Linked DNA regions of Homo sapiens: all the other regions are reported to be linked to region 4. The links are microRNA targets in miRTarBase. Many come from high-throughput screens and were not tested one by one. Region 4 holds a microRNA gene; each other region holds the end of a gene's coding sequence. Distances are from middle to middle.
The links. Region 4 holds the annotated microRNA hsa-miR-6745 (UGGGUGGAAGAAGGUCUGGUU, at 1,525-1,545, opposite strand). A microRNA usually pairs through its seed, bases 2 to 8, with sites in the 3' UTR of a target mRNA and lowers its output. Matches are read on the target gene's strand: a 7mer-m8 pairs with bases 2 to 8, a 7mer-A1 pairs with bases 2 to 7 and ends in A, and an 8mer does both.

Region 1 (4,064 bases), not on the chromosome of region 4:
CTTTGGTCTCAACCTTTACCATGGAGAAGCGAGGATTTTACGAGTCTCTTGCCAAGGTCAAGCCAGGGAACTTCAAGGTCCAGACTGTCTCTCCAAGAGAACCAGCTTCCAAAGTGACTGAACAAGCTCTGTTAAGACCTCAAAGTAAAAATGGCCCTCAGGAAAAAGATTGTGACCTAGTAGACTTGGACGATGCGAGCCTTCCGGTCAGTGACGTGTGAGGCAGAAGCGCACGGAGCCTGCCTGCCTCTGCCGTCCTCAGTTTCCTTTCATGAGGCTTCTAGCCAAAGATGATAAAGGGGGAAATGGTTTTTAGTGCGTATATTATACTGCCTCTTAGGTGTACTCTTTATAAGCTGGTAAACCAAGAATCTAGGGAGTGGCCAAACTAAATATAATTTCTTTAAAAAAGAAAGAAAAAGGAAAAATCCAAAATATCTCAGTATCATCTGTCTGAAGCATTGTGTGTTCTCATTCGGGTGGTAACAATGTATGTGTAATATTTTTTTCTTAGTGATTTTGACAGTTTAAATGTTTAACAACTTAAAGCATTAAAAATGCTTATTAATAACTTTGGTCATTTAAAAAATGCTACAATGACTTCCTATTAAAGGTTCAATATTTACACATTCTTATTGGTTGATATTACCACATGAAATATTGCCAGACCAAGATACCTAAACTCATGATGTCTGTGGTGCTGTAAAATTTATACTAAAATGTGGACTATTTTGAAATTATAACCATTTTTGATGCCCTGAATCTTGAGGTGACTTATTTTGCATAGAGGATATGGATAGACCAACAGTAAGGGTTGTGGGTTATACCGGCATAGAGAAAAGAAGAAAACTAGAATTGAAACAACTGTGTCTTAGACATTTGTTTGAAAAAGCTTCATCAGGCCTTGGAGCAGTCACTGCTTTATTCCGCAAAAATTATTTGGTAGGAAATTTTTGGGAGATCTGATTTTCTTATCCAAGTTTTGTAAATAGTTGTTATTTCTATATTTGGATTGGTGAAAGACCTCAAGTTTATATGTAAAGACATAACTGCCCTTAGTCATGAAATTGTTGTGACCTCTACTTTTTGTCACTAATAGCCTACATTCAAGTGCCTGTGTTTTTTCATCTTGTTTAGGAATGTTTTGAGATTAATGTGCTTAAAAGTCCTACGTGACTGATTTTAAACATTGTGATAAAATTAATTTTCAGTAGAATAGTTGAATGTGTTAAGATAGGATTTTATGTTAGAGATACCAGAATGCTGGTATTCTACTACTTGTGCAATATATATGTTTTAAAAAACAAATTTGAGAATACATTTAATCATAGGGATATAGATATAAGCACCTCTCTAAAGAATCTTTAGTTTCCGACGTTGAATTATAGACCAGTTTGAGTAAGTACTGCTTTTTTTTTTTGGAGACGGGCTCTCGCTCTGTTGCTCAGGCTGGAGTGCAGTGGCGTGATCTCAGCTCACTACAGCCTCCACCTCGTGGGTTCAAACAGTTGTGCTGCCTCAGCTTCCCGAGTAGCTAGGATTACAGGTGCATGCCACCACACCTGGCTAATTTTTGTATTTTAGTAGAGATGGGGTTTCACCATGTTGGCCAGGCTCGTCTCGAACTCCTGACTTCAGGTGATCCACCCATCTCAGCCTCCCAAAGTGCTGGGATTACAGGCGTGAGCCACCATGCCCGGCCCATAAGTACCGTTTTTGAGGTTCAGTCTTAAACATTTGCTTTAAGAAAACAGTCTTGAATTTCACATGCTGCTATTTTTATATTTTGCCATTTTACAGTACTGTTTTGTTTTGAATTCATGCATATCATTGAAAATTTCTCGTTTTCATTTTCTTAGATGACTTCTTGTCTGAGACAGAAAAATTTCCTACTACAGCAGTGCAGTCCAGAGGTTAAGATGTATTAGAATTATACAATATCAGTTTAAAAATCTGTATGCATAAAGAATGCACCACTCAACTTTTTTATTCATAAGCTAATATTTTTTTAAAGTTACATTAAGATTTTTTCTCTTTTGCAGCTACATTTGAAAGTGATAGAATAAAGAGATTTTAATGAGTTATCACTTTTTCAGCTGATATATTCATTTTAATGGCTTTTTTGAAAGTTCCTTTTTCATGAACACACCCGAGAAATCTTAAATAGACACTTTGCAATATTTAAGAACCTAATGCTGTTTAATTTTGGTACAGCTTCCACATTGCATGTTCACTTTAGTATTTGCAATTTGATATATTTCATGGTGGCAAAATATTAGCTCTGTTTTGGGACATTTTAAAATAGAACTATCCTTGTTCGATAGCATAGGAAAATGTTCTGGTGATTGTCAGGGTCTCCTAATATTTATCTCAATTCTTTTATAAGTCTATGGAAATTATTTAATTATTTTAAAACGTACACACTTTTCTTGTAAATATGTCACATCTGAGTTCAAAAAAATTACTTTGAATACCTTAATATTTGCTGCATTTTTTTCCGTATATATAACATGTCTTCTTTCAGAATGGGAATATATGTGTGCCTCCCAACATTTACTGTTAAAGTGTGTTATCTTTATATGTCAAACTGGTTGAACACTGTAATGAGAATAAACTGCACAGAGTTTATTCTGACTTATTTCTCATTTTGTTTGGTTCAGCCCTTGTGTGATGAAGTAAATACAATGATTAGGGGTGTGTTTGGTTAATTGACTTCAGTTTACATATTTAAGGACAGAGTAATTATTTGGTCATCTTTGCAAGAATAAGAAACTTCAGATCTGTGAATTCTTAATGCATCCCTGCATGTGAAATTATAGAAGGAAAAATGATTTTTTTTTGATAGGGGAAAGAACTTGCTTATTTTTCTTAATTAAAAAACATGTTCTCAAAAGCAGAATTATCATATGTTAGCCTCAGAGCATCGTGTGGATCATCTGGGCTGCTCACAGTGCTCCATGATTATTTAGACGGCATGATGTAAGGCGGAAAGCAGAGGGCATCTTAATCTCCGGGTGGGCAGTTGAGATGCACTCAAAAAACTATGTCGGGTGTTAGAGGCTGCTCCTTGCAAACGTTCCCTATTGGTGATAAATATTCCACGTCTGTTGCGGTGAACACCATATACAGGGCCTAGTGCAGTGCTTGGTGCACTTGGTAAAGCTTAAATACTTCTCCAGTGAGGACAAGGCATTACTGTAGAATGTGTGAACTTCCCACATTAGAGAAAAGTGTATACCTATTTGTTAGATAAATTGTACTTTTGAATTTCTGGAATATTCTTTCCTTAAAGCAACTTGCCTTCAATGATTCGAGATACCTTCTTTTGCTTGTTGTGTCTAATCCATTGTCAGATCCTGCTGCTTTTCCCTGGCATGTTCATACCTTGTTCTCTGAAATTCAGCCGGGAATGACTTTGAACCAGTATGTCTGCTCACCTATTCATGTCCTGTTGGGGCTCTCCTGGACTACCCTATTCCTGTCATTGTGCAGAGTAGGTATCAAAGTAGACATCTTCATCTGTTGCCTTTTCCTGAAAAGCTGAATGACGACTTAAAGATCAGCTAGGCCAAGCCCCCACCATCAATGCTAACTGAGATAAATTGAGACCCCAGAAAGGAGGAGGATTTGCCTGGCCCATGGGGCACGTTAGCAACGAAGCTGTAACTGTTGGCTTCTCACTGTACTTGGGAGCATCATTAGGATCTGTGCCCAGGGTGTAGCTAGAGTAATCCAGCCAAATATACCAGGTTGCTTCCTAATAACCTATGGCATTCCGCACCTCCTCTCCAAAACACATAGGCTTAGTGTTCTTTTTTTTTTTCTCAGTCTTTTTCTGAAGGCCATTTGTTGTGTGAAATGGCTTTCTTCATCTTAGACCTTCAGATCTCTGTTGAATCAAGTGACTTGTGAATGTCTAGCCATGCAACAGCAGCTCACGTACTTCCTGTGTGTGTTCTAATATGCTGCTGCTACAAATGGATGGAATACATTGTCCTAGAATGCAAGGACCTTGAGGTTTGTGTCTGCGTTTCACCTGTTAGGTTTTCTGTAGTTCTGTTAGA
Region 2 (4,053 bases), not on the chromosome of region 4:
CACCAAGAAGGCTACTGACGTGGAGGGTGAGGCGGAGGAGGGCTAGGTCTTTCTCTGTGCACTGGGAGCCACTCTCCTGAAGCCCCAACTGCGTCTTCATCTTTGTGGCCCCAGAGCCCAGACCACAGCCTGCAGCACAGGACGCCCCGGGAAGAATTAATGCAGCCGGAGAGACCAGTCCACCTCCTCGTGTCGCGTGTCCGCGTGGGGTTGTGGGTGGTCAGGGAGAGGTAGGGTGGATGACCCAGGAAGGCCGCCCTCCCCTGGCTCTGTCTAGGAACAATCCTTGCCCCAGGCCTGGTCCTTAGAAGGCAAGACAGCCCCCTTCCAGCTGGGGGATCAATCTGCTGTTGGCTGCGCCAGGGTGCGGCTCCCTCGGGTCTGGCCTGGTCGTGGATCCAGTTCCTTCACAGCTGCGGCCTCCCCGGGTCCATTAACGAAGGTGGGGAAGGGCGGAGAAAGGGTCGGAGTCTGGGAGGAGAGCAGCTGCGGGCGCGCCAGGGCGCTGACAGTCTGGCTCTTGGAGGTAAGATGGGCGTGGCTGATCCCGAACTCCGCCTGCGTTTGCAGAAGCGAAGGGAACCGAGCGAGCGGAGCTGAGCTCGGGTAGGCCGCGCGAGGTCCCTCCTCTCCGGGCGTCCGTGCGCCTAGCTCTGCGCTGGGAGCCTCGCGCCCTTTGACAGCAGTTAGTTGCTGACTCGGATGCAGAGAGTCGGTAACACCTTCTCCAACGAGAGCCGGGTGGCATCCCGGTGTCCCAGCGTGGGCCTTGCTGAACGGAACCGGGTGGCCACAATGCCGGTGCGGCTGCTCAGGGACAGTCCAGCGGCTCAGGAGGACAATGACCATGCCAGAGACGGTTTCCAAATGAAGCTGGATGCCCACGGCTTCGCCCCGGAGGAACTGGTGGTGCAGGTGGATGGCCAATGGCTGATGGTGACCGGACAGCAGCAACTGGACGTCAGGGACCCGGAAAGGGTCAGTTACCGCATGTCACAGAAGGTGCACCGGAAAATGCTCCCGTCCAACCTGAGTCCTACCGCCATGACCTGCTGCCTGACCCCCTCCGGGCAGCTGTGGGTCAGAGGCCAGTGTGTGGCGCTGGCCCTCCCTGAAGCCCAAACAGGACCGTCCCCGAGACTCGGGAGCCTCGGCTCTAAGGCTTCCAACCTGACCCGGTAAACAAACGACGCGATGTGCAGCAGCCTTGGTGTCCGTTGTCTTTTCTGGGGATGGAAGTCAGAGGTAGAGGGACTGGAGGCACAGGAGGCAGGAAAGGCACCCTCAAGGTGGTGGTCCACCAAGAATCAGGCCTCTGCGGGCAGATCACTTGAGGCCAGGAGTTCGAGACCAGCCTGGCCAACATGGTGAAACCCCATCTCTACTAAAAACACAAAAATTAGGCGTGGTGGTGTGTGCTTGTAATCCCAGCTGCTCGGGAGGCTGAGCAAGAGAATCGTTTGAACCTGGGAGGTGGAGGGAGGTTGCAGTGAGCCAAGATCCTGCCACTGCACTCCAGCCTGGGCCACAGAGTGAGACTCTGTCTCAAAAAAAAAAAAAAAAAAAAAAAAAAAAAATGCTGGGCGCGGTGGCTCACGCCTGTAATCCCAGCACTTTGGGAGGCCGAGGCGGGCGAATCACAAGGTCAGGAGATCGAGACCATCCTGGCTAACACGGTAAAACCCCGTCTCTACTAAAAATACAAAAAAATTAGCCGGGCGTGGTGGTGGGCGCCCGTAGTCCCAGCTACTCGGGAGGCTGAGGCAGGAGAATGGCGTGAACCCGGGAGGCAGAGCTTGCAGTGAGCCGAGATCGTGCCACTGCACTCCAGCCTGGGCAATAGAGTGAGACTCCGTTTCAAAAAAAAAAAAAAAAAAAAAAAAAAAAAGCCGACTGTGGTAGCTCACGCCTGTAATCCCAGCACTTTGGGAGGCTGAGGCGGGTGGATCACTTGAGGCCAGGAGTTTGAGACAAGCCTGGCCAACATGGTGAAACCCTGTCTCTACTAAAAATACAAAAATTAGCAGGGCGTGGTGGCGGGTGCCCGTAATTCCAGCTACTTGGGAGGCTAAGGCAGAAGAATCGCTTGAACCCAGGAGGTGGAGGCTGCAGTGAGTTGAGATAGCACCACTGCACTCCAGCCTGGGTAACAGAGACTCCGTCTCAAAAAAAGAAAAAAAAAAAAAAAGGGAATCAGGCCTCTGTGGCCCTGGGAGAAATTGGAGGAGAGTGTGGCCCTAGCTGAGCAGCAGCTCCAACAGGTAGCAGCAGAGAGCTGAGTGCCCAGACCTGATTCCAGAACCAGTAGAGAGCTGGACTGGGGCAACTTGGATGTGGTGTGGGGGGGTGACGTGGACAGAGGTGGTGAGGAAAGCCAGTGGCTACAGTCTTGGCCTTAAGACCAGTCCAGCGTTCCAGGGGCTGTTGGGATTCCTTCCTCTTCAGGAAGAGAGAGGATCCAGACCCTCTCACTGGTAAAGACCAACCAAAAAAAACCCAAAGAGGTTGTTTCTGGTGTTTCAGAGACTAATGATCATCAAATACACACTGCATGTCACCCCAGTATGATCTGGTAGGTGGGGGAGGGGAAGGGAGGTGGAGAAGTGAACACGGGCCCTGAAACTTCAAACTTGGTCAGCCCAGGTCAGCTACCTCATCGGAGCTGCTAACAGTAAGAGCCTCTTTCTCTTGGTTACCATGACCACCAGCATCCCCTCACATTAGAGGGGAAGATTTTGTTTAACAAGATTCAGTGGTTCATTTTAAATCAACTTCAACTACAGAGGGCACTGTCTGATAAACTGCCAGAGAAAGACAAGGAAGACAATTGTGAGGTCGATCGATCGGCTGACTATATTGACAAGATACTGATTGGTTACATGTTGAAGAAAACATACAATACAAAATACAGAAAAAGTTGGTTCCGTCCCCTCCCACTCCCCCCCTTACCCACCCACCCCCAAATACTCATCATCATGATTTGGTCAGAACAGGGCTCAGAGCCAGAGGTTGGGGTGACCGAGGGTGGAGGGGTTGTGGGCAATGGGTTCGTGGCTGTCACAATAATGCTGTGATAATGCTGTGGTTTCCCAGCAGGGAGGTGGGAGCGGGGAGGGGGCTGCAGCCTGATGAGAGCCAGCTGAAGGAAGAGCTGCCTCTCCCTTCCTAAGCCCCTTCCCAAGGTCTGCCCCACCGCCCAAACCAAAGACCACTCCGAACAAAGTGAGGATGTGGATGCTCTTGCTGGGTCCGCTGTTCCGCAGGAGGGAAAGAAAGGGTAGCTGCACTGACCCCACTGTCCCCATATACAAGGGTTGGGGGGCAAGAGCATGTGGCTACTCCCAGCAAGGGAAAATGGGAGAGCAGTAGAAAGGGGAGGAAGTGGGAAGAGCAGAAGATCATATATATTAAAAAAGTGACTTAAGACTTAAAATTGAATTAGTATTTGTACAGAAAGGTGCAGGTGGAATGACTCACTCCGGCCTATGATCAAAATTATATGGAGAAATCATGGTGGACCCCTCCCCCTGCCCCCCCAGTGGTGGCCCGAGTCGTTAAGTGCGATTGGTTAGAGTGGATTCCAGTCGGGTCATTCAGGCGGAGGAGGCGGGGGCAGCGGGCAGGCAAGGGGGGCTCAGTTGCTGCAGCACTGGCTCCGGCTGGCTGGGTTGTTCTCCTGGAGGTCCACACCTCGGTTTCGGCCTGGAGCACCAGTTGCATTCTGGGGCTCGTTCTTGGGAAGCTTCTTAGCTGTTTGGGAGGGGGAAAAGTGCATTTGTTGGGGGTACCCCAATAACTCTCCCAGTTCCACTGGAGCAGATTCTGGCCTTTATACCCAATCAGTGGTAACTCACATATTGAGGGCTTCTGTGTGTCAGGTGCATTCTGATTGTTTTCAGGAAACTGCGGCAAAGTAAGGTTAAATAACTTGCCCAAGACTACAGAGCTAATGAGTGGTAGAGCCAGGATCTGCAACCCAGGAAGGAAGATTCCAGAGCCAAATGAGCTAAAAACTCCTAGGCAGTGGGTAGGGGTAGTGATGGCAGGCTCTGA
Region 3 (4,062 bases), not on the chromosome of region 4:
AGGATGTGGCAGCTAAGGAAACCTTGTTGCGGCTCTCATCCCCCCTCCACTTTGTGAACACGCACTTCAATGGGGCAGGGTCCCCCCCAGATGGAGTGAAATGCTCCCCTGGAGGACCAGTGGAGACACTGAGCCCCGAGACAGTGAGTGGTGGCCTCACTGCTCTGCCCGGCACCCTGTCACCTCCACTTTGCCTTGTTGGAAGTGACCCAGCCCCCTCCCCTTCCATTCTCCCACCTGTTCCCCAGGACTCACCCCAGCCCCTGCCTGCCCCTGAGGAAGAAGAGGCACTCACCACTGAGGACTTTGAGTTGCTGGATCAGGGGGAGCTGGAGCAGCTGAATGCAGAGCTGGGCTTGGAGCCAGAGACACCGCCAAAACCCCCTGATGCTCCACCCCTGGGGCCCGACATCCATTCTCTGGTACAGTCAGACCAAGAAGCTCAGGCCGTGGCAGAGCCATGAGCCAGCCGTTGAGGAAGGAGCTGCAGGCACAGTAGGGCTTCCTGGCTAGGAGTGTTGCTGTTTCCTCCTTTGCCTACCACTCTGGGGTGGGGCAGTGTGTGGGGAAGCTGGCTGTCGGATGGTAGCTATTCCACCCTCTGCCTGCCTGCCTGCCTGCTGTCCTGGGCATGGTGCAGTACCTGTGCCTAGGATTGGTTTTAAATTTGTAAATAATTTTCCATTTGGGTTAGTGGATGTGAACAGGGCTAGGGAAGTCCTTCCCACAGCCTGCGCTTGCCTCCCTGCCTCATCTCTATTCTCATTCCACTATGCCCCAAGCCCTGGTGGTCTGGCCCTTTCTTTTTCCTCCTATCCTCAGGGACCTGTGCTGCTCTGCCCTCATGTCCCACTTGGTTGTTTAGTTGAGGCACTTTATAATTTTTCTCTTGTCTTGTGTTCCTTTCTGCTTTATTTCCCTGCTGTGTCCTGTCCTTAGCAGCTCAACCCCATCCTTTGCCAGCTCCTCCTATCCCGTGGGCACTGGCCAAGCTTTAGGGAGGCTCCTGGTCTGGGAAGTAAAGAGTAAACCTGGGGCAGTGGGTCAGGCCAGTAGTTACACTCTTAGGTCACTGTAGTCTGTGTAACCTTCACTGCATCCTTGCCCCATTCAGCCCGGCCTTTCATGATGCAGGAGAGCAGGGATCCCGCAGTACATGGCGCCAGCACTGGAGTTGGTGAGCATGTGCTCTCTCTTGAGATTAGGAGCTTCCTTACTGCTCCTCTGGGTGATCCAAGTGTAGTGGGACCCCCTACTAGGGTCAGGAAGTGGACACTAACATCTGTGCAGGTGTTGACTTGAAAAATAAAGTGTTGATTGGCTAGAACTGCTGCCTCCCTGACTGTGAGCTGCCTTCCACACCCTGCACTGCACTGTGTTCTCTCCTCACCCTTAACCTGCTTCACTCCAGTCTGTTCTGGCTGTTTATTACCTTGTTGCAAAACAGGGCCGAAGCAAGGATTACCTTGACAACCCTAGCTTCTCCTTAGCCATCTTCCTTGACAGTGTGATCTGTTTAGTGAGATTTAGCATGTGTGAATAAAGTATATGCAGGAGGAAATTGCTTTGTCTTCCCAATCGGTAGAAATTCGGGACCATAAAAATTGTGTTTTACCATGTGGCCTACAACCTTAACACTGCTTTCTTAAGAAGTCTTCACCCATCTACATGCTAACAACTCACTCAGCCTGGATTTATCTTTACTGGGGAAGCCAAACAAGCAATAGAGGACCTTTACCTGTGTTAGAAATGAGTTGGAGCCAAGGAACACTGAAGAAATAGTATCTTAACAGTTACTGAGTCCATTGTATGTGCTTGGCTCTGCTCTGAGTGATTTATATGTATTAAGATTTTTCCTCACAGGTCAGATATATACTGTTACTAACTTCATTTTATAGACAGGTTAAGCTTCCTGAAGGCCACAGGTCCCAGTAAATTGTGGAGCCAGAACCCAAACCCAAGAAGTTTTGGCTTCAGCAAATGCATCAGACAGCCCCTGTCCATTAATAGGGCACAGGTAGGAAGATGCACAAGGATGTGGGAACTATAGAGAACCAATCTGATGCCTTGGCTTAACAAAGAGTGGACATGGCAAGCCTTCCTCTTTGGGGAAGAAAAGCCCAGAACTGAGCAGATGGCCTCCTTTATGAGTTCATGTCCTCCGCCTTCAGCTGGAGGTACCATATGGCGATGCTACCTGTCTTTCTGCTGGAGGTACCATATGGTAATGCTGCCTGGCTGTCTGCTGGAGGTACCATATGGTAATGCTGCCTGTCTTTCTGAGGTTGACTTTTATGCCATGTCTTTCCTAAGTGTGTAAGAATTTTTCTGTTTGCTTCACATTTGACTGAGAATCATTCTAGGGTTTGATTGAGCCCCTGTCCTGTGCCACTAAAGGAACTCGAACTTTTCATCACTTAGAGATTTCAGAGGGGAATGGAAAAACAGTTCTAATCAATAAGCAAGCAATTCAAGAAAAATAGAATTAATCAGGCAATGACTGCAACATGTCCTATCTTTAATCTATTTTCTTATTAAGCTTGGACATTGACAATAGAACCAGAAGCTTGTAGCTGGATCAAAATATTCTCCATAGGCCTGGAGTTTCATGAGGGTCTATTCTTTTGTTGTTGTTGTTTTGGTTTTTTGTTTTTTGTGGGTTTTTTTTTTTTTTTTTTTGAGACGGAGTCTTGTTCTGTTGCCCAGGCTGGAGTGCAATGGTGCAGTCTTGGTTCACTGCAACCTCTGCCTCCCAGGTTCAAACAATTCTCCTGCCTCAGCCGTCCAAGTAGCTGGGATTACAGGTGCATGCCACGATGCCTGGCTATTTTTTGTATTTTTAGTAGAGGTGGGGTTTCACCATGTTGGCCAGGCTGGTCTCGAACTCCTGACCTCAGGTGATTCACCCACCTCGGCCTCCCAAAGTGCTGGGATTACAGGTGTGAGCCACGGCGCCCAGCCTCATGAGGGTCTATTCTTTACATTCACCATGGTCTGATGGTTGCTACATGTTTGTCTATGATTTTTTTTTTCTATTATCAGGTGTCTTGGCCGGTTCATGCCCCACGATGAAAGGGCCAGAGGTTTTCATATGAGTAAAAGAAAAAAGCAGAAATGTGAAACCTACAATTAGGCTAAACAAAAATCAACTGGAAAAGTACAGGCTGAGGGGAGAAGAGTTGGCTACATGTTTATGTTAGGGGAGGAGGGAGTACATTTTAGCTATGTATTCAAACAGCTAATAGTTTAATGTTGCTGCTTATAAACTTAATTTTAGGCTGCATTAATAAAAGTGTAGTCTCCAAAACAAGAAATGTGATAATTCTAGTGTCCTGTGCACGAATATCCTAATACTTCCAGAGGATGGCTTGCTAGGCTTGTGGGCAAATTGTAGTATGTCCAGGAGATGACTGCTAGAAATGAAGGCTGAAAATCATCATAGGACAAACTGTTGGAGGAACTGGGAATCTCTAATCCAAGAAGAGAGCTGAGTTGGTTCACATCAGCTGGCTTCAAACTTCAAAGGTTTGTCTGCAGGACTTCAGAGGGCAGATACGAGTTGAGTTTGGTTGATAATAGTGCTAGGTAGAATTTAATTTTCTAGTCAAGGGAATATTGCAAAGCAGATTTAAATGATCTGCAAAAGTATAATGATCAAGGGCGGTAATTCTAAGAATAATTCCAACATGGAAGGACAATATTATCACCATGTTTTGCTTTTAATGTCCAACTAAAGTCAGCTTGGACTTCTCTTCCTCTGTCTGCTCCCTTAAAAGTTGGTATTTTGGACCGGGTGCGGTGGCTGACGCCTGTAATCCCGGCACTTTGGGAGGCCGAGGCAGGCGGATCACAAGGTCAGGAGTTTGAGACCAGCCTGGCCTACATGGTGAAACCCCATCTCTACTAAAGTACAAAAATTATCCGGGTGTGGTGGCGCATGCCTGTAATCCCAGCTACTGGGGAGGCTGAGGCAGGATAATTGCTTGAACCCGGGAGGCGGAGGTTGCAGTGAGCCGAGATTGCACCACTGCACTCCAGCCTGGGTGACAGAGCGAAACTCTG
Region 4 (4,064 bases):
CCCTGTTCCTGCAACTGGGTCAAGGACTGAGGGGGATGGTGTGGTCCCAGAGCCCAGCTAGCAAAGACATGGCTCAGGCAGAGGCAGGTCAAGGTCAGCAAGCTGCCCCACCCCAGACCCTGAATGCAGCCACCAGGCACCAGCTATCTGGACCTGGAACAGCTGAAGGGACAGAGGACTGGCCCTTAAGAAGTGGGTATTTGGCTTCCCTTTCTGACACCCCTGCTCAGGCAGATAAGGCAGAGGCTGAAGCTAGGAAAGGGGTCCCAGGGTACCTGCTCGGAAGCTCAGCTCATCAGCTTCCTGGCCAGCGTAGTCATAGAGTGCCCTCACCCGAACCCCGGTGGCAGCCTTCCGGGGACTCTCTTCATCTGACCACTCCTCATCCTGCCCCGTGCTGGAGAGGGGAGGCAAAGGGAGCAGCTCAGAGTGCAAGGAACACGGGGCTGGAGATCTCACCCAGGATCAGGGCAAAGGCCTCCCTACCCCCAGAGGCACCTGGGAGAGTCAGGTGAGGTACTAAAGATTCTAGCTCTACCTCGCCATGCCCGACTGTGAGCAAAGAGGCAATTCCTGCCACACGCAGCTGATTTAAGGCATAAACGAGAGGGAATGTGGGAAATGCCCAGCAAATCTAAACCACTATGAGAACCAGTATCATTACAACTACTAAGTAGGCCCTCAGGTCCCTGGCACCAATTTTCAACCCATTTCAGGTGTGAAAGAAATGAAACCAAGGAGAAAGGAAAGGAGGGCGGGAGGCAGAGCTGTTTCTTTGCCACAGCCGCGCTCCTGGCTCTCACCCTGGGGACCCCGGGGACTGGGGTGGGGGTGCGGTGCCATCTCTTGTAGGCACAATGCTGGTCAGGGTAACCTCATCAGGGCTCCGGCCACCCTTCTCTTTCCGGCTGATTGTCCTCTGTGTGTCCAAGGACCACTCCTGTGGGGACAGTGCTTATAGTCAGGTGGGGCCATCTGAACCACCTTCACTTACTTCATCCCTAGCCCTGGCCGAGCTGAGTGGGAGCCCATCCCACCTCCCATCCCCACCCCGCCTGGAACACATGCCTCGAACTGTGGCCAGTTCATGGCCATGCCTGGCCCGTGGGTGCTGCGCCACCAGCGCAGATCCTCTTCGTCACTGGCTGCCTCAATGCCCTGGTGCAAGTCACGGTGGAGTTCATGGAACCTATGACCCAAGGCACACCCCTCAGTCTAGGAAGTCTAGACCCTGCATCCCTCAGTCCCAGCCAGGGCCTCGGGGAGATGGAGGAGACCCAGTACTACCCCAGATCTCCATGCCCACCAGGCAGTTCATACTTCTCACTGCTGGAAAGGTCCAGGTGCTGGTGTAAGGTGAGCAGCATATCCTTGAAGAAAAGAAGCCGCTGGCGCTCGGCGGCCTGGCAGGTCTCAAAGGCCTGTTCCATGTCCTCCATGTAGCGTGGAGTGTAGCGATGCAGCTCTGCCAGCGTCTGCTCATACTGAGCTTTTGTCTGGGTGGGAGAGGAGGGGCCTGGTGAGAACCAGACCTTCTTCCACCCAGGACTCCACCAGTGTTTACCAGACACTGCCATAGGCTGCTAGACCCAGGGCTAGCCACTAGGGGCAATCAGTCCCAAGACCCAGCTCCTGCCCTCAAGGACCCCAGCAGCCTAACAAGGGAGGTGACATCAGGCACAGCATATAAAAGAGTCTGGTGAGGATTGAAATGAGGTCAACCTACAGGAAAGGATGGGAGAAATCAGAAAAGGCTTCCTGGAGGAGGTGGAAACTGCAGCATCTCAGGATGGGGAGGATTTGCATATCCAGAGCTGCAGGAAAGGACACTTCGGGCAAAGGGTACTGTGCAAGGAAAAGAGCTGGAAGTTCTCAACTGCTGAAGTCATCCCAGTGCCTGAAACTCCATTTCTTTCCCTAGTAAAGCATCACCTTTTGTCAGGTTCCTCCTTTAAATGATCATCTGGAGAGAGGGTGGCAGGTGAGGAATAGGGTAATAAGGGTGCTGGGGACTGGACAAGATGTTCAGGGAGCAAGATTCATTCAGGAAGCCGTGCCCTGGGCGGGGGCCAGGGCTGGGACCTGTGGCCTGTACCTTCTCGGCCTCCTTGGCACAGCGTTCCACCCGTTCCTGCAGTTTGCGCAGCTGCTCCTGGGAGACGGCGCTGTCTGCCTTTGCGTGGCTCTCCCTCGTCTGGGCGGTCTTCTCATCCTTCCGGGCTGCGTGGTAGCTTTTCTTGGAAGCCTCAACCTGGCATGCATGGAGACCACTCTGGACCCTGGATGCCACACCTTGGCCCCCTCGATCCCTTGCAAACAAACAGGAAGGAGCCTGTCTCGGATACCTCCCCCACCCAGCCTCACCTCCTTCAGCCTCTTCAGCCAGGGCTTCTGGGCCTTGCGGAAGCCGTCCTCGGCCGCCCGGCTCTCGCGGAAGCCGCCCAGCACAGGCCGGTGGAAAGCCCCCCGCTGCCAGGCGCGCACCCGCTCACTGTCCTGCCCTTGCAGCTTCTCCCGCACCTCCAGGTGCAGCGCGCTCAGCCGCTCAGCCGCCGTGAAAAAGGCATGCCAGGCCTTCTCCAGTGTGCCATACTGGGGGCCTGCAGGGAGGGACAGGGCTTAGGCCAGGCCTGGGTACCACCCAAAATGAGCCTAGCCCCTCTCACTGGGTGTGAGGCATGGAGGCATGGGGTACGCGCATGGGGTGCAAAGGTGAATGACAACCCTGTCAGCTGGGCTTATTGAATGAGGACCATGTGCCTTATCTCACTGACTCCTTGTCTCAGCCACCATCGTGAGGACAGCGACATTGCCAACATTGAACAGGCAAAACACTGAGGACCAGAGATGTGAACTCGCCCAAAGCATTATGGCTACAACAGGAGCTGAGGGCCGGGCACAGTGGCTCACTCCTGTAATCCCAGCACTTTGGGAGGCCAAGGCGGGTGGATCACAAGGTCAGGAGATCGAGACCATCCTGGCTAACACGGTGAAACCCTGTCTCTACTAAAACTACAAAAAATTAGCCGGGCATGGTGGCGGGCGCCTGTAGTCCCAGCTACTTGGGAGGCTGAGACAGGAAAATCACTTGAACCCGAGAGGGGGAGACTGCAGTGAGCTGAGATCACGCCGCTGTACTCCAGCCTAGGTGACAGAGCGAGACTCTATCTCAAAAAAAAAGAAAAAAAAGAGGAGCTGAGATTCAAACCCATCTCTGTTGTGTAAACACTACACTCCATTGCCTCAAAGGAAGAGCCTGTGTGTGCCCTCGAGGAAGACAGCTTGCAGGGTGGAAAGATCCATGCTCCCAGTCAGAGGGCCTGGGCTCAACCTTCAGCACTTCCTAGCTGTGTGCCTTTAGGCAAGTCCCTTAGCCTCTCTGAGCTTCCAGTTTCTCCTCTAGAAAATGCATAAAACAGGCCCAGGTGCGGTGGCTCATGCCTGTAATCCAGGCCGGGCACGGTGGCTCACGCCTGTAATCTCAGCACTTTGGGAGGCCAAGGAGAAAGGACCGCTAGAGCCCAGGGGTTCAAAACCAGTCTGAGCAACATAGCAAAACCCTATCTCTACAAAAAATACAAAAATTAGCCAAGTGTGGTGGTCCATGCCTGTGATCCCAGCTATTGTGGTCCCAGCTATTCAGGAGGCTGAGGTGGGAGGATCAGTTGAGCGTGGGAGAGGGAGAGGTTGCAGTGATCCATGATTGTACCACTGCACTCCAGCCTGGTGACAGAGTGAGACCCTGTCTCAAAATAAATAAATAATAAACAAAGGAAAGAAGGCCAGATGCAGTGGCTCACGCCTGTAATCCCAGCACTTGGGGAGGCTGAGGTGGGTGGATTACCTGAGGTCAGGAGTTTGAGACCAGCCTGGCCAACATGGTAAAACCCCGTCTTTACTAAAAATACAAAATTAGCCAGGCGTGGTGGTGGGTGCCTGTAATCCCAGCTACTTGGGAGGCTGAAGCAGGAGAACCACTTGAGAGGCGGAGGTTGCAGTGAGCCAACATCATGTCACTGCACTCCAGCATGGGCAACAAGTGCAAAACGTCTCAAAAAAAAAAA
Region 5 (4,064 bases), not on the chromosome of region 4:
TTTGAGGTCAGGAATTCGAGACCAGCCTGGCCAACATGGTGAAACCCCATCTCTACTAAAAATTTAAAAATTAGCCCGGCGTGGTGCTGTGCACCTGTAATCCCAGCTCCTCGGGAGGCCGAGGCAGGAGAATCACTTGAACCTGGGAGGCGGATGTTGCAGTGAGCCGAGATCTCGCCACTGCACTCCAGCCTGGGTGACACAGCGAGACTCCGTCTCAAAAAAAAAAAAAAAAAAAAAAAGGAAGTGGAAGGGAGTGTAAAATACCTCAAAAAGGTGTAGGCATGGGTTAGCCGCTGCAGCCCCCACTGTGCAAACCTTAAGGGTGCATGTCTTCCAACAGTGGAGGAAGGCCCTGTCTTCGCCATGTGCATGGCGGGTGCTCATGACCAGGCGACGATGGCTAAGTGGATCCAGGGCCTGCAGGAGACCAACCCAACCCTGGCCCAGATCCCCGTGGTCTTCCGCCTCGCCGGGTCCACCCGGGAGCTCCAGACATCCTCTGCAGGGCTGGAGGAGCCGCCCCTGCCCGAGGACCACCAGGAAGAAGACGACAACCTGCAGCGACAGCAGCAGGGCCAGAGCTAGTCTGAGCCGGCGCGAGGGCACGGGCTGTGGCCCGAGGAGGCGGTGGACTGAAGGCATGAGATGCCCTTTGAGTGTACAGCAAATCAATGTTTTCCTGCTTGGGGCTCTCTTCCCTCATCTCTAGCAGTATGGCATCCCCTCCCCAGGATCTCGGGCTGCCAGCGATGGGCAGGCGAGACCCCTCCAGAATCTGCAGGCGCCTCTGGTTCTCCGAATTCAAATAAAAAGGGGCGGGAGCGCTGTTGGTTGTGCGCATGCGCAGTTTCCATTCTTGGTCTCCTTTTGGCGCCCTGGGGCAGCGAGAGACCGTGAGAAATTTCTCGGCGGCGCCGAAGATGCGCGCCACTTCCGGTCTGGCTCCTAACAACGGGGGAGGCTGGTAACCAGGGTGGGGGGGATGGCGGAGCGGGCGCTAGAGCCCGAGGCGGAGGCGGAGGCTGAGGCGGGCGCGGGCGGGGAGGCAGCAGCCGAGGAGGGCGCAGCGGGCCGAAAGGCGCGGGGCCGGCCGCGACTCACGGAGTCGGACCGGGCCCGGCGACGGCTCGAGTCCCGGAAGAAGTACGACGTGCGGCGCGTGTACCTGGGCGAGGCGCACGGGCCCTGGGTGGACCTGCGGCGCCGCAGCGGCTGGAGCGACGCCAAGCTCGCCGCCTACCTCATCTCTCTGGAGCGCGGCCAGCGGAGCGGCCGCCACGGGTGAGGGGGCCTGGCCCCGAGGGAGGGAGGGAGGAGACGCCCCCAGACCCCGCCGGGCTTTACCCCGCCCCCTCCGCTTCTAGGGCCAGCCCCCGGCACCTGCGGACCCCGCCCAGGAGCCGGGCCGGCGGCCTGGGTCTCGTACTGCCTGGCCGGGACGCGCCTGGCTCGTGGCCCCGCCTCCCATCGTTCCGACTGCCCAATCCTAGGGTGCACCCAGCCCCTCGACCCGCCTTCTGAGCGCTTGGCCCCGCCCGCTAGAACTCTGGCGGCCCAATCCTGGGACTGGCCCCACCTCCAGGCCTTGTAACTAACCAGGCCCTGGGGGGGCAGCCCCGCCCCCTCACCGGTCTCATCCTCCCCCGCTTAGTTCCCCACCTGGCCTGGGACTCTGGACACCCTGGGGCACTCAGCCCTGCCCTTCTTGAAGTTCTGGTGCCCCATCTGGGACTCCGTATGGCCCCATTCCCACAACCCTAGATCCAACACATCCGGGGGACCCTTCACAACCTGGACTGCACTCCCCTAAACCTATTTCTGTGAAGCAACTCAGCCCAGGGAGACTCGGATGAAGAGGAAACCCCTAGTTAGCTTGGCAGGTGGAGGGCAGAGAGGCCTGTCTTTGTAAATTCTCAGTCTTGAGAAGGAGCAGTGTGGATGGAGTTTTTCCCTTCCTGCCTTATATGTTGATGTGATGATTGAGTTAAAATAGGCAAAGAGCTTAGAAGAGTGCCTGGCAGGTAGTGGGTTCCCTAAGTATTAACTTTTACGAGGATGACGTTTATTCCGTATCACAAGCAGTGCCGCAAGGAAATCCTTGTTCTGCCCTGGTTTTCAGGTACACATGTTCTCATGTTTCTCTGGGGGGAGATTCTGAGAGTCAAGAATCAAACAGATCCTGCTAAGTTATACCCACCCCTTTCCCAGGACAGCAGGCTGGCTTATATGCTCAAGAGCAGGACTGGAAATGCTGGGAGCGCAAAGATACCTGCCTCATGGAGCGGACATTCTGGTGGGCAGAGGGGATGGCTTGTTCAAAGGTCTGGGGGGTTTTTTTGTTCGTTTTTCTTTTCTTTTCTTTTTTTTTGAGACAGAGTCTTGCTCTGTCGCCCAGGCTGGAGTGCAGTGGCACGATCTCCGTTCACTGCAAGCTCCGCCTCCCGGGTTCACGCCATTCTCCTGCCTCAGCCTCCCAAGTAGCTGGGACTGCAGCCGCCCGCCACCACGCCCGGCTAATTTTTTGTATTTTTAGTAGAGACAGGGTTTTACTCTGTTAGCCAGGATGGCCTCGATCTCCTGACCTCGTGATCCACCCGCCTCGGCCTCCCAAAGTGCTGGGATTACAGGCGTGAGCCACCGCGCCCGGCCCTCGTTTTTCTTTTTGAGACAGGGTCTCACTCTCTCGCCCAGAGTGGAATGCAGTGGCATGATCACGGCTTACTGCAGCCTCAACCTCGTGGGTTCAAGTGATCCTCTTACCTCCGCCTCCTGAGTAGTTGGGACCACAGGTGCACGTCACTCCACCTGGCTAATTTTTGTATTTTTTGTAGAGACAGAGGTTTCCCTGTGTTGCCCAGGCTGATTTCAAACTCCTAGGCTCAAGTGATTCTCCGGCCTCAGCCTCTCAAAGTGCTGGGATTACAGGTGTAAGCCATTGTGCCCAGCCCTGTTTGTTTGTTCTTGAGACAGGGTCTCACTTTGTCACCCAGGCCAGAGTACAGTGGCATGTTCATAGCTCACAGCAGCCTCAACCTCCCAGGCTCAAGGGATCCTCCTGCCTCAGTCTCCCAAGTAGCTGGGACTACAGAGGAGCCACCTCACCTGGCTAATTTTTTAATTTTTCATGGAGATGGGGGTCTCGCCATGTTGCCCAGGCTGGTCACGAACTCCTCGGCTCAAGGGATCCTCCGTCCTCAGCCTCCCGAAGTGCTGGGATTAAAGTCATGAGCCACCATACCTGGCAAAAGGCTTGTTTACTGCAGACCAGAAACATAAGTAAATTGTATCGTCCATGAGAGATAGGGGCTACGGAAAAAACAAAAGTGAAATGAAGAGTGTGAGTTGGAAGTTTAAATAGGGAGTTAAGGTGGTCACATTCAGAAGATAGCATTTCAGTAAAGACATGAAGGAACCTAGGAGGAGCCATGCAGATCTCTGGGGAAGAGTTGAGGCAGAGGGAATAGCAAAGGCAAAGGTCCTGAGGCAGGACCCTGCCTATTGTGTGCCAGGAACACTGAAGAGGCTTGTGTGGCTGGACTGCAATGAGTGAGGGGGAGAAGGGAAGACAAGGACAGATTGGTGACAGGGAAGGTCATCCAGAGCCATGGAGAGGACTCCAGTTTTTCCTCCCAGTGAGGTGGGAGCCTTTTCTTAAGTGCAAGATTTTGTACAGAGAAAGAAGTGGTATGGTCTGCCTTTATTTCCCCTGATGCCCCCCCCACCTTTTTTTTTTTTGAGATGGAGTCTTGCTCTGTTACCCAGGCTGGAGTACATTGGCGCAGCCTCAGCTCACTGCAACCTCTGCCTCCCGCGTTCAAGCGATTCTCCTGCCTCAGCCTCCCGAGTAGCTGGGATTACAGGCGTGCACCCCCATGCCCGGCTAATTTTTGTATTTTTAGTAGAGACGGGGTTTCGCCATGTTGGCTAGGCTGGTCTCGAACTCCTGACCTCAAGAGGTCTGCCTGCCTCGGCCTCCCAAAGTGCTGGGATTACAGGTGTGAGCCACTGCGCCCGGCGGGGTTGCAGATTTAAATGTAAAGATGAAACCATACCCGGGCCTG
Region 6 (4,064 bases), 18 Mb from region 4:
CCTCCTTGGTGAAATGGTCGACACAATCCCTGGCTCATGAGGGCTTGAGGAGAATGAGTGAGAGAGGGTGTGTGGGGCTCCTAGCACGATGCCCGGATCCTGGTGGATGCTCAGGAGCCCATGCTGCATTTACATCACTAAGGGGCAGCACTGGCATGGAACTGGACAGAGAGCCCAGGTGCCCCTGGGGTCTGACAAACTCTCCCTGGGACCGGCGGGGCTTCCTGGATGGGATGACATGGAGCAGGGCCTTGAGGAAGGCGTGGAGTTCCTCTGGGCTGGGGAGGGAAGGGGCTGACGGCAGGCAGGGTCTGCAGTCACTGGCCACCACCATCAGCACCTTTGTCCTCCCAGGTCCTGGAGCTGGACTCCATCCGCAGCCACCACTGGTGCATCCAGGGCTGCAGCGCCGTCACCGGGGAGAACCTGCTGCCGGGCATCGACTGGCTCCTGGATGACATTTCCAGCCGCATTTTCACAGCTGACTGAACCACTCCAGATGCCCCCCACCTAGCAGTCCAGGTCCCTCAACCTTCACCAAACACTACCCATGGGGGGTTGGGAGTCAGCCGGCCAAACTAACACTCCCCCTCCTCCACCCCAGCCTGCTGCTGCTACTGCTGCCCGCTGCTGCTCTGTGGCCACCCGGCTCCCATGGCGGGAGGGCTGTGCCCTGGCTGTCTCTCTGGCTCCTGACCTGGCCTTTGGCTACCATACCAAGAAGAGAGGGCTGGGCGGGGAGGAGCTGCTACTGCTGCTACCGAGGCTGTGGGCCTCATCCTTCACTCAGTTGTGAAATAAACCGCTCCTTGCCCCGATTCCTGGCTGAGTCATTTGTTGATTCAACAGCGTTAGAGACCACCTGGGACCCTCAATCTAGCAGGGGACAGAAAGGAATGGATCATTGGAGTCGATGGTGAACTGTGGCTATGTCAAAGGGATGCAGAAAAAGTTATAGAAGCATGGGACACGGTGCAACTGATTCCATCTGCAGGCTTCCTAAAGGAGGTCACATTAAAGCTGGGAGTAAAGCGCGAGTAGTTTTCTAGGTAGAGGAAGGGGAAGACAGTTCACCAGGGGAAATCCAACTCTCATAGGTATGAATTAGAAAAACAGACACAGCTGCAGACCAGGGCTCCAACTTTTTGCATGGAACATGGGCTGAAATTCAGCTCCCAATTCTCTGTTGCAGCCAGGAACCCATGTGCAGTGGACAACCTGAACAGCTGTACAAGGCCAGCACAGATTCAGGCAGAGGGGATCACAGGACAGGCATGATGAGCAAGGGCTCCGGCTGGGCGCGGTGGCTCACCTGTAATCCCAGCACTTTGGGAGGCCAAGATGGGCGGATCATGAAGTCAGGAGATCAAGACCATCCTGGCTAACACGGTGAAACCCCGTCTCTACTAAAAATACAAAAAATTATCCGGGCGTGGTGGCGGGCGCCTGTAGTCCCAGCTACTCGGGAGGCTGAGGCAGGAGAATGGCGTGAACCCGGGAAGACGGAGCTGGCAGTGAGCCGAGATTGCGCCACTGCACTCCAGCCTGGGTGACAGAGCGAGACTCTGTCTCAAAAAAAAAAAGCAATGGCTCTTGGGAAATGGGGAGGTGCATAGAGTCATGTGTAGGAGAGAGTGCAGCCAGAGGGTGGGAGGGGGGCCACATCAGGCAGGGGTAACTGAGGCCTTCCCTGAAGGCTACAGGAACTCAGAAGCAGTGCCAGGTTGGGAAAGGATAGGAAATGAGGCCACCCCAGGGGTCCAATCCAAGTGGCAAAACTGGCAGATGTTTTCATGGCACAGGGTCCTAGCAGCTGCTTACTCTGCAGGGTTCTGTGTGAAGGGGTGGCCTGTCCCTCCACACCTGTGGGTATATCTCGTCAGGTGGGACGAGAGACTGAGAAAAGAAATAGGACACAAAGTATAGAGAAAGAAAAGTGGGCCCAGGGGACCGGCGCTCAGCATACCAAGGACCCACACTGGGACCGGTCTCTTAGTTTCTTCAGTTTTTATTGATTATTACTTTCACTATCTCAGCAAGAAGAATGTGGTAGGAGAGCAGGGTGATAATAGGGAGAAGGTCAGCAAAAAAACGTGAGCAAAAGAATCTGTGTCATAATTAAGTTCAAGGGGAGGTACTATGCCTGGATGTGCACGTAGGCCAGATTTATGTTTCTCTCTGCCCAAACATCTCAGTGGAATAAAGAATAACAAGGCAGCATTGCTGCCAACATGTCTTGCCTCCCACCATAGGGCGGTTTTTCTCCTATCTCAGAATTGAACAAATGTACAATCTGGTTTTATACCGAGACATTCAGTTCCCAGGTGCAGGCAGGAGATAGTGGCCTTCCTCTATCTCAAGTGCAAGAGGCTTTCCTCTTTTACTAACCCACGTCAGCACAGACCCTTTATGGGTATCGGGCTGGGGGACGGTCAGGTCTTTCTCATCCCACGAGGCCATATTTCAGACTCTCACATGGGGAGAAACCTTGGACAATATCCGGCTTTCCAGGACAGAGGTCCCTGCAGCTTTCCACAGTGCATTGTGCCCCTGGTTTATTGAGACTAGAGAATGGCGATGACTTTTACCAAGCATACTGCCTGTAAACATTTTGTTAACAAGGCACGTCCTGCACAGCCCTAGACCTTAAACCTTGATTCCAAGGCCGGGCGTGGTGGCTCACGCCTGTAATCTCAGCACTTTGGGAGGCCGAGGCAGGCGAATCATGAGGTCAGGAGATTGAGACCATCCTGGCTAACACGGTGAAACCCCGTCTCTACTAAAAATACAAAAAATTAGCCAGGTGTGGTGGTGGGCGCCTATAGTCCCAGCTACTCGGGAGGCTGAGGCAGGAGAATGGCATGAACCCAGGAGGCGGAGCTTGCAGTGAGCCGAGATGGCGCCACTGCACTCCAGCCTGGGCGACAGAGCGAGACTCCATCTCAAAAAAAAAAAAAAAAAACACCTTCATTCCATACAACACATGTTTTTGTGAGCTCAAGGTTGGGGCAAAGGGGTTGGGGCAAAGTGGCTGGGGCAAAGTTACAGATTAACAGCATCTCAGGGCAAAGCAATTGTTCAGGGTACAGGTCAAGATGAAATTTCTTCTATCTTCCCTTTCTACATAGATACAGTAACAGTCTGATCTCTCTTTTCCCTACACTGTTCTAAGTACTACCCATTCCATTCAGCAATACAGTTAGGGACAGCCCTATGCAGTGCCGCCTATCAGGATCCTCTCTTATATGGGACACTAAGGGGTGGCACTGGCGTGGCACTGTACAGAGAGCTCAGGTGCCCCGGGGAACAGATAAGCTCTCCCAGGGGCCGGGGAGGCTTCCTGGATGGGCTGACCCTTGAGCAGGGAGGGAAGGGTCTGCGGTCACTGGCCACCACCAGCACCTTTGTTCTCCCAAGCCCTGCATCTGGACTCTCTGCAGCCACCACTGGTACGTCAAGGGCTGCAGCCCCACTGCTGGGGAGAACCCACTGCCTGGCATTGACTGGCTCCTGGATGACATTTCCTCCAGAAGGTTAAGTGCAATCTCTGCCTGCCGGGTTCAAGCAACTCTCCTGCCCCATTCTCCCGAGTAGCTGGGATTATAGGCACCCGACACCACACCTGGCTAATTTTTGTATTTTTAGTAGAGATGGGGTTTCATCATGTTGGCCAGGCTGGTCTTGAACTCCTGATATCAAGTAATCCGCCCGACTTGGCCTCCCAAAGTGCTGGGATTACAGGCATGAGCCACTGCACCTGGCCCCCAGCTAATTTTTAAATTTCTCATGAAATCAGAGGCAGCCTGTTGCCCAGGCTGGTCTTGAACTCCTGGCCTCAAGTGATCCTCCCGCCTTGGCTTCCCAAAGTGCTGGGATTACAGGCATGAGCCCCATGCCAGGCTTTGCTTCTTTCTGAAGACCAAGGCACCGCACCTGTACACCTGAATTCCAGGAACAAGAGTGGCTATTCACAATGCTTCCTCTGCAGTAAATACTATGTGTTGTATGTAAGCCTACCAACTTCATGCTGCATTTCAACAGATTTTTGCTTCAATTCTAACACT
Region 7 (4,064 bases), not on the chromosome of region 4:
GGCAGCACAAGGCAGAACACTCTGGGGGGCTGGCATGGGGAAGGGACAGGAAAGCCAAATCCAACATTGATTCTGCCAAAATCTTTAGTAGTTAGCACCAAGTAGTCAGGCTTCTACTTTTTTTCCTTTCAGCTAATCTGAATTCATTAATATTTATATAATTATAGTACTTATAGAACTAAAATTATTTGAAAACTCAGGTTATTGGACAAATAGGTTCAGTATAATCCCAAATATAAACAGCTTACTTCAGGATAAAATAATTTCTGTTCTTTTGGCCGGGCACAGTGGCTCACACCTGTAATCCCAGCATTTTGGGAGGCCGAGGCGGGTGGATCACGACGTCAGGAGATCGAGACCATCCTGGAGATCGAGACCATCCTGGAGATCGAGACCATCCTGGCTAACACAGTGAAACCCCGTCTCTACTAAAAATATAAAAAATAACCCAGGCGTGGTGGCAGGCACTTGTAGTCCCAGCTACTGAGGAGGCTGAGGCAGGAGAATGGTGTGAGCCCAGGAGGCAGAGCTTGCAGTGAGCGGAGATCGCGCCACTGCACTCTAGCCTGGGTAACAGAGTGAGACTCCGTATCAAAAAAAAAAAAAAATTCAGTTTTTCACTTCATTCTTTGCACATTTTAAAATTTGATTAGAATGTTTAGAAATAAGCACATTTCATTCTATAAAAATGACAGGTCAGGCACAGTGGCTCACGCCTGTAATCCCAGCACTTTGGGAGGCAGAGGTGGGTGGATTGCTTGAGCCCAGGAGTTTGAGACCAGCATGAGCAACATGGGAAAAAAAAATAAAAGTTTTGTCTCTACAAAAAAATATAAAAAATTAGCTGGCAGGGTGGCACACACCTGTAGCCCCAGCTACTCGGGAGGCTCAGATGGGACCTGAGCCTGGGAGGTCAAGGCTGCAGTAAGCTGTGATCCTGCCACTGCACTCCACCCTGGGCAACCCTGTCTCAAAAAATAAAAAAGACAGTAAAAATATCCCTATACTGGGGCAGGAACTTTACAAGGTATCCTGTGGCAAAGGGAGCAGAGATGGGGGGAAAGGGGTGCTAAAAGTTTGATTGGAAAGGGACTTTTCCATGGTTACAACACCAACTGACATGGAAGCTGCACCTCTGAGAGGGCCCTGGTCCTAGAGGTCAACCACCTGATGGAGAGCCTTGGTAAACCAAGCCCTCTTTCACCAATCTCAGGAATCAGGTAGCACAGCCAAGCACTCTAACTTCACACATAAGGAAATTGATGCAGAGGTTCATTGACTTGCTCAAGATCAATCCTGCCAAGAAAAGGCACACCATGCCTGGAACCCAGATCTGATGACTCCAAGACCCTTCCTATGACTCTGGCCCCCCTGCCCAGCCACTTCTAGTGCCAGTTTTGGGACAGTGAAGGGACATCTTCAGTGCCATGAACAGCTGCTGCCGTAGGAAGGCAAGAGGATGGCAGAACCAAGATGACCAAACCTTCCTGAGGACAAAGCTGAACAGGCATCAGAACACCAACAGGAGACTTCTGCCCCGCCCCCACCATCCTGTGACACCACCACACAATATCAGAGCCTTCATTTTCACCTGCTCATGGCAATCCAGAGCAGGTAAGATTATTCCATACTCTACTGAAAAAGACATCTTCCAGGTTGGTTTCTTCTCATTTCAAGAAATGACCAGCTCCATGAACGGGCCCCTATAGTCAGGACACTGCTCTACTATTAAAACATTTTATCCTTTCATTCATAATCTGACCTCTTCAATAATCAGAAGCAATGATTACTCACATGCTTTAGCAATATCACTCCTTTGCCTTTAAGTAATTGATTCTTGCTTTTTGCTTCAACACAAGTGGGTGGGCCAGTGAGGGAGCTCCTCCCAGAACAGGCTGCCTTTTCTCCTGAGAGCAGCAGGCACATGCACTTGTTCCTTCGGGTTGAATCTGATTGCTAGCACCAGATCTCATACATGGAGAGGGGTATGTGAAGCTGAGAGGGGCCTGCAGTGTGCAGGGGCTAGAGACATGAACACAACAATGGTAAGCGTTTATATCTGCTGAGGCCGAGGATCCTATAGAAAATTCAGAAACGGAGTGGGGAGGAGTCTGATTTATGGGAACTGGCAGCAAGGCTAACTGCATGAGAAGCCTTTCACCCTTTTACTGAGTCCTTGGATCTGTGGTTAACCCTTATAAAATATAATTCAGATTCAAACCACATCACTCCTCAACTCAAAATTGTCCAAAAGCTCCCTGCCTCCCTCTGAGCCAGCTCAAGCCCCCGTAATGACCCATGATGCTCATATGGCCGGGCCTGTGGCCTCCCTGGCCCCTCTCCTTCCCTTCCAGCTGGCTCCCTGCACTCCATCCCAGGGGCTTCCTTCCTGAGGACACCAGTCAAGACCCAATCTCCTCTGCCTGCAACTCTCCCTAGAGAGCTACCTGCTACCTCCCTGGCTTCCTTCACGTCTTTGCTCACATTTCACCTTCTCAGTTGAGGCCCTCCCTGACCAGACTATCTAAAATCACGACTGATCTCCCAATCCAGCACTCCCTCTGCTCTTCTCTGATTCACTTTGTCCACTACACACATCACCATCCAGAATACTGCGTATCCCATTTGTTTGTCATCTGTAAAGATCCAAGATGGCAGGATTTTCATCTGTTCTGGTCCCTGCTGGGTCTCTGGCAAACACACCAGCGCCTGGTGTATGGGAGTGCTCAGCACATTTCTGTTAAACAGATGGACCGCTGCTGCCTATGCAGGCCTGTGGGATGGGGATGGCAACAGGGTACTGGTAGAGATCCACACGCCAAGCGCTTGAGCCCAGCATCCTGCTCTCCTCCACCTGCCGCTGAGACCACTCTAACCCCCTAGCAGATATCCAAAAGCCAGCCAGGAAGGCTGAAGCCCCAGCCAGAACTCCCCAGGGGGCATTTGGGAAGGCTAGGAGTTCTTGATGCTGCTGCTTTTAAAGTCAACAGAATAGGCATGGCCACAGGCCAAACTTGAAGACAAATCTAGGATCCCACTGGCCCCTTTCCAGCAGCCATAGCCCATGATGCCACAGATATTCTGTCCAACCACAAAGGGCAGTGGTCTCTCTCTTCAGAGTTGTGGAAGGAGACCTGAATAGGGGAGCCGCAGGCTATGGTGCAGAGGCCACTCCTAGGGGCCGGAGTCTCCAGAAGGGCTCCAAAGGACATGGTGCTGCACTTCCCCAGCGTCACATCCTAGCAGGCAGGCTGGGGACTCCCCGAGCTTTCAAATCCTTGGGATTCTGTCACTAGCTTCCAAAACAGAAAGGGCTGGGCCCTTTATCAAAGTTACTCCACAATGCCTATAATTAAGGGTTCTCTAGCAGGGGACTGAGAACCCACCCCCACTGTCACTGTCAGGTCCCAGGCTAATCTCTAATATGGTTTTTCATATGCCGAGCCAGGTTCGAAGACCACCTGAAGGTCTTTCCACACTTGCTGCATTTGAAGGGCCTCTCTCGAGTATGAAATCTCTTGTGGCTAATGAGTTGTGAACTCTTGTTAAAAGTTTTCCCACATATGCTGCATTTGTGGCACTTTTTCCCAATGCTTATGTCCTGGAGTCCAGTGAGCCTGGAGCTCTGGCTGCAAGCTTCTTTGCAGTCTTCGAGGGGCATCTCTTCACTTGGTTTTAGCTTCTGTAATCTCAACTTTGTGTCCTGAGAGGAAGACCGTGCAGGCGGGCTACGTTCAGCCTGTGCTGCTCTGGTGTGTTTCCTCTGGTGACTGGAAAGGGTATGTCTCCCAATGAACTCTTTCCCACACCACTGACATTTGAAAGGTCTCTCTGTAGAGTGGATCCTCTGATGGTTAACAAGGCGATAGTTTCTATCATAAGATTTCCCACATAGATTACATTTATAGCGCTTCTCTCCACTGTGTATTCCCTTATGATCTAAAAGGGTTCTTTTACGTGTAAAGGTTTTCCCACATTCTTGACACCAAAAACGTTTCTCACCAGTGAGGATTTTTGGCTCCACATTTGGAGTCTTTTCACTTTCATGGCAATCATACTGTTTT

Region 1: the mRNA of PLEKHA1 is a reported target of hsa-miR-6745. Seed matches in the 3' UTR shown: 8mer at 1,643-1,650.
Region 2: the mRNA of RAB5C is a reported target of hsa-miR-6745. Seed matches in the 3' UTR shown: 7mer-m8 at 3,023-3,029.
Region 3: miRTarBase lists RETREG2 as a target of hsa-miR-6745. Seed matches in the 3' UTR shown: 7mer-m8 at 594-600.
Region 5: miRTarBase lists ECSIT as a target of hsa-miR-6745. The part of its 3' UTR that is shown has no 7-base or 8-base seed match.
Region 6: the mRNA of ARL2 is a reported target of hsa-miR-6745. Seed matches in the 3' UTR shown: 7mer-m8 at 595-601.
Region 7: miRTarBase lists ZNF445 as a target of hsa-miR-6745. Seed matches in the 3' UTR shown: 7mer-A1 at 1,860-1,866, 8mer at 747-754 and 7mer-m8 at 330-336.

What each region holds. Positions count from the first base shown.
Region 1 is chr10:122,429,718-122,433,781 of GRCh38, forward strand. It overlaps PLEKHA1 (pleckstrin homology domain containing A1), which reads left to right. Exons shown (of 12, transcript NM_001001974.4): 12 at 1-2,628. The coding sequence ends at 221. Among named protein-coding and RNA genes, the nearest start is that of MIR3941, 15 kb to the left of the region's middle.
Region 2 is chr17:42,122,149-42,126,201 of GRCh38, forward strand. RAB5C (RAB5C, member RAS oncogene family) reads right to left here. Exons shown (of 6, transcript NM_004583.4): 6 at 2,831-3,750. The coding sequence ends at 3,635. HSPB9 (heat shock protein family B (small) member 9) reads left to right here and starts at 656. Exons shown (of 1, transcript NM_033194.3): 1 at 656-1,204. The coding sequence starts at 703. The coding sequence ends at 1,182. RefSeq lists an enhancer at 971-1,508.
Region 3 is chr2:219,182,166-219,186,227 of GRCh38, forward strand. It overlaps RETREG2 (reticulophagy regulator family member 2), which reads left to right. Exons shown (of 9, transcript NM_024293.6): 9 at 1-3,310. The coding sequence ends at 464. Among named protein-coding and RNA genes, the nearest start is that of RETREG2, 5.9 kb to the left of the region's middle.
Region 4 is chr11:47,178,091-47,182,154 of GRCh38, forward strand. It overlaps MIR6745 (microRNA 6745), which reads right to left and starts at 1,647; the gene lies at 1,521-1,647. It overlaps PACSIN3 (protein kinase C and casein kinase substrate in neurons 3), which reads right to left. Exons shown (of 11, transcript NM_016223.5): 5 at 2,365-2,600; 6 at 2,096-2,251; 7 at 1,321-1,496; 8 at 1,069-1,189; 9 at 804-940; 10 at 276-397.
Region 5 is chr19:11,502,708-11,506,771 of GRCh38, reverse strand. ECSIT (ECSIT signaling integrator) reads left to right here. Exons shown (of 8, transcript NM_016581.5): 8 at 344-843. The coding sequence ends at 588. ZNF653 (zinc finger protein 653) reads left to right here and starts at 933. Exons shown (of 9, transcript NM_138783.4): 1 at 933-1,284. The coding sequence starts at 986. RefSeq lists silencers at 738-787, 948-1,617 and an enhancer at 1,768-1,837.
Region 6 is chr11:65,021,367-65,025,430 of GRCh38, forward strand. It overlaps ARL2 (ARF like GTPase 2), which reads left to right. Exons shown (of 5, transcript NM_001667.4): 5 at 355-818. The coding sequence ends at 489. The region is part of intron 3 of ARL2-SNX15 (ARL2-SNX15 readthrough (NMD candidate)); the gene reads left to right. Among named protein-coding and RNA genes, the nearest start is that of SNX15, 4.0 kb to the right of the region's middle.
Region 7 is chr3:44,443,163-44,447,226 of GRCh38, forward strand. ZNF445 (zinc finger protein 445) reads right to left here. Exons shown (of 8, transcript NM_181489.6): 8 at 1-4,064. The coding sequence ends at 3,413. Among named protein-coding and RNA genes, the nearest start is that of LINC01988, 17 kb to the left of the region's middle.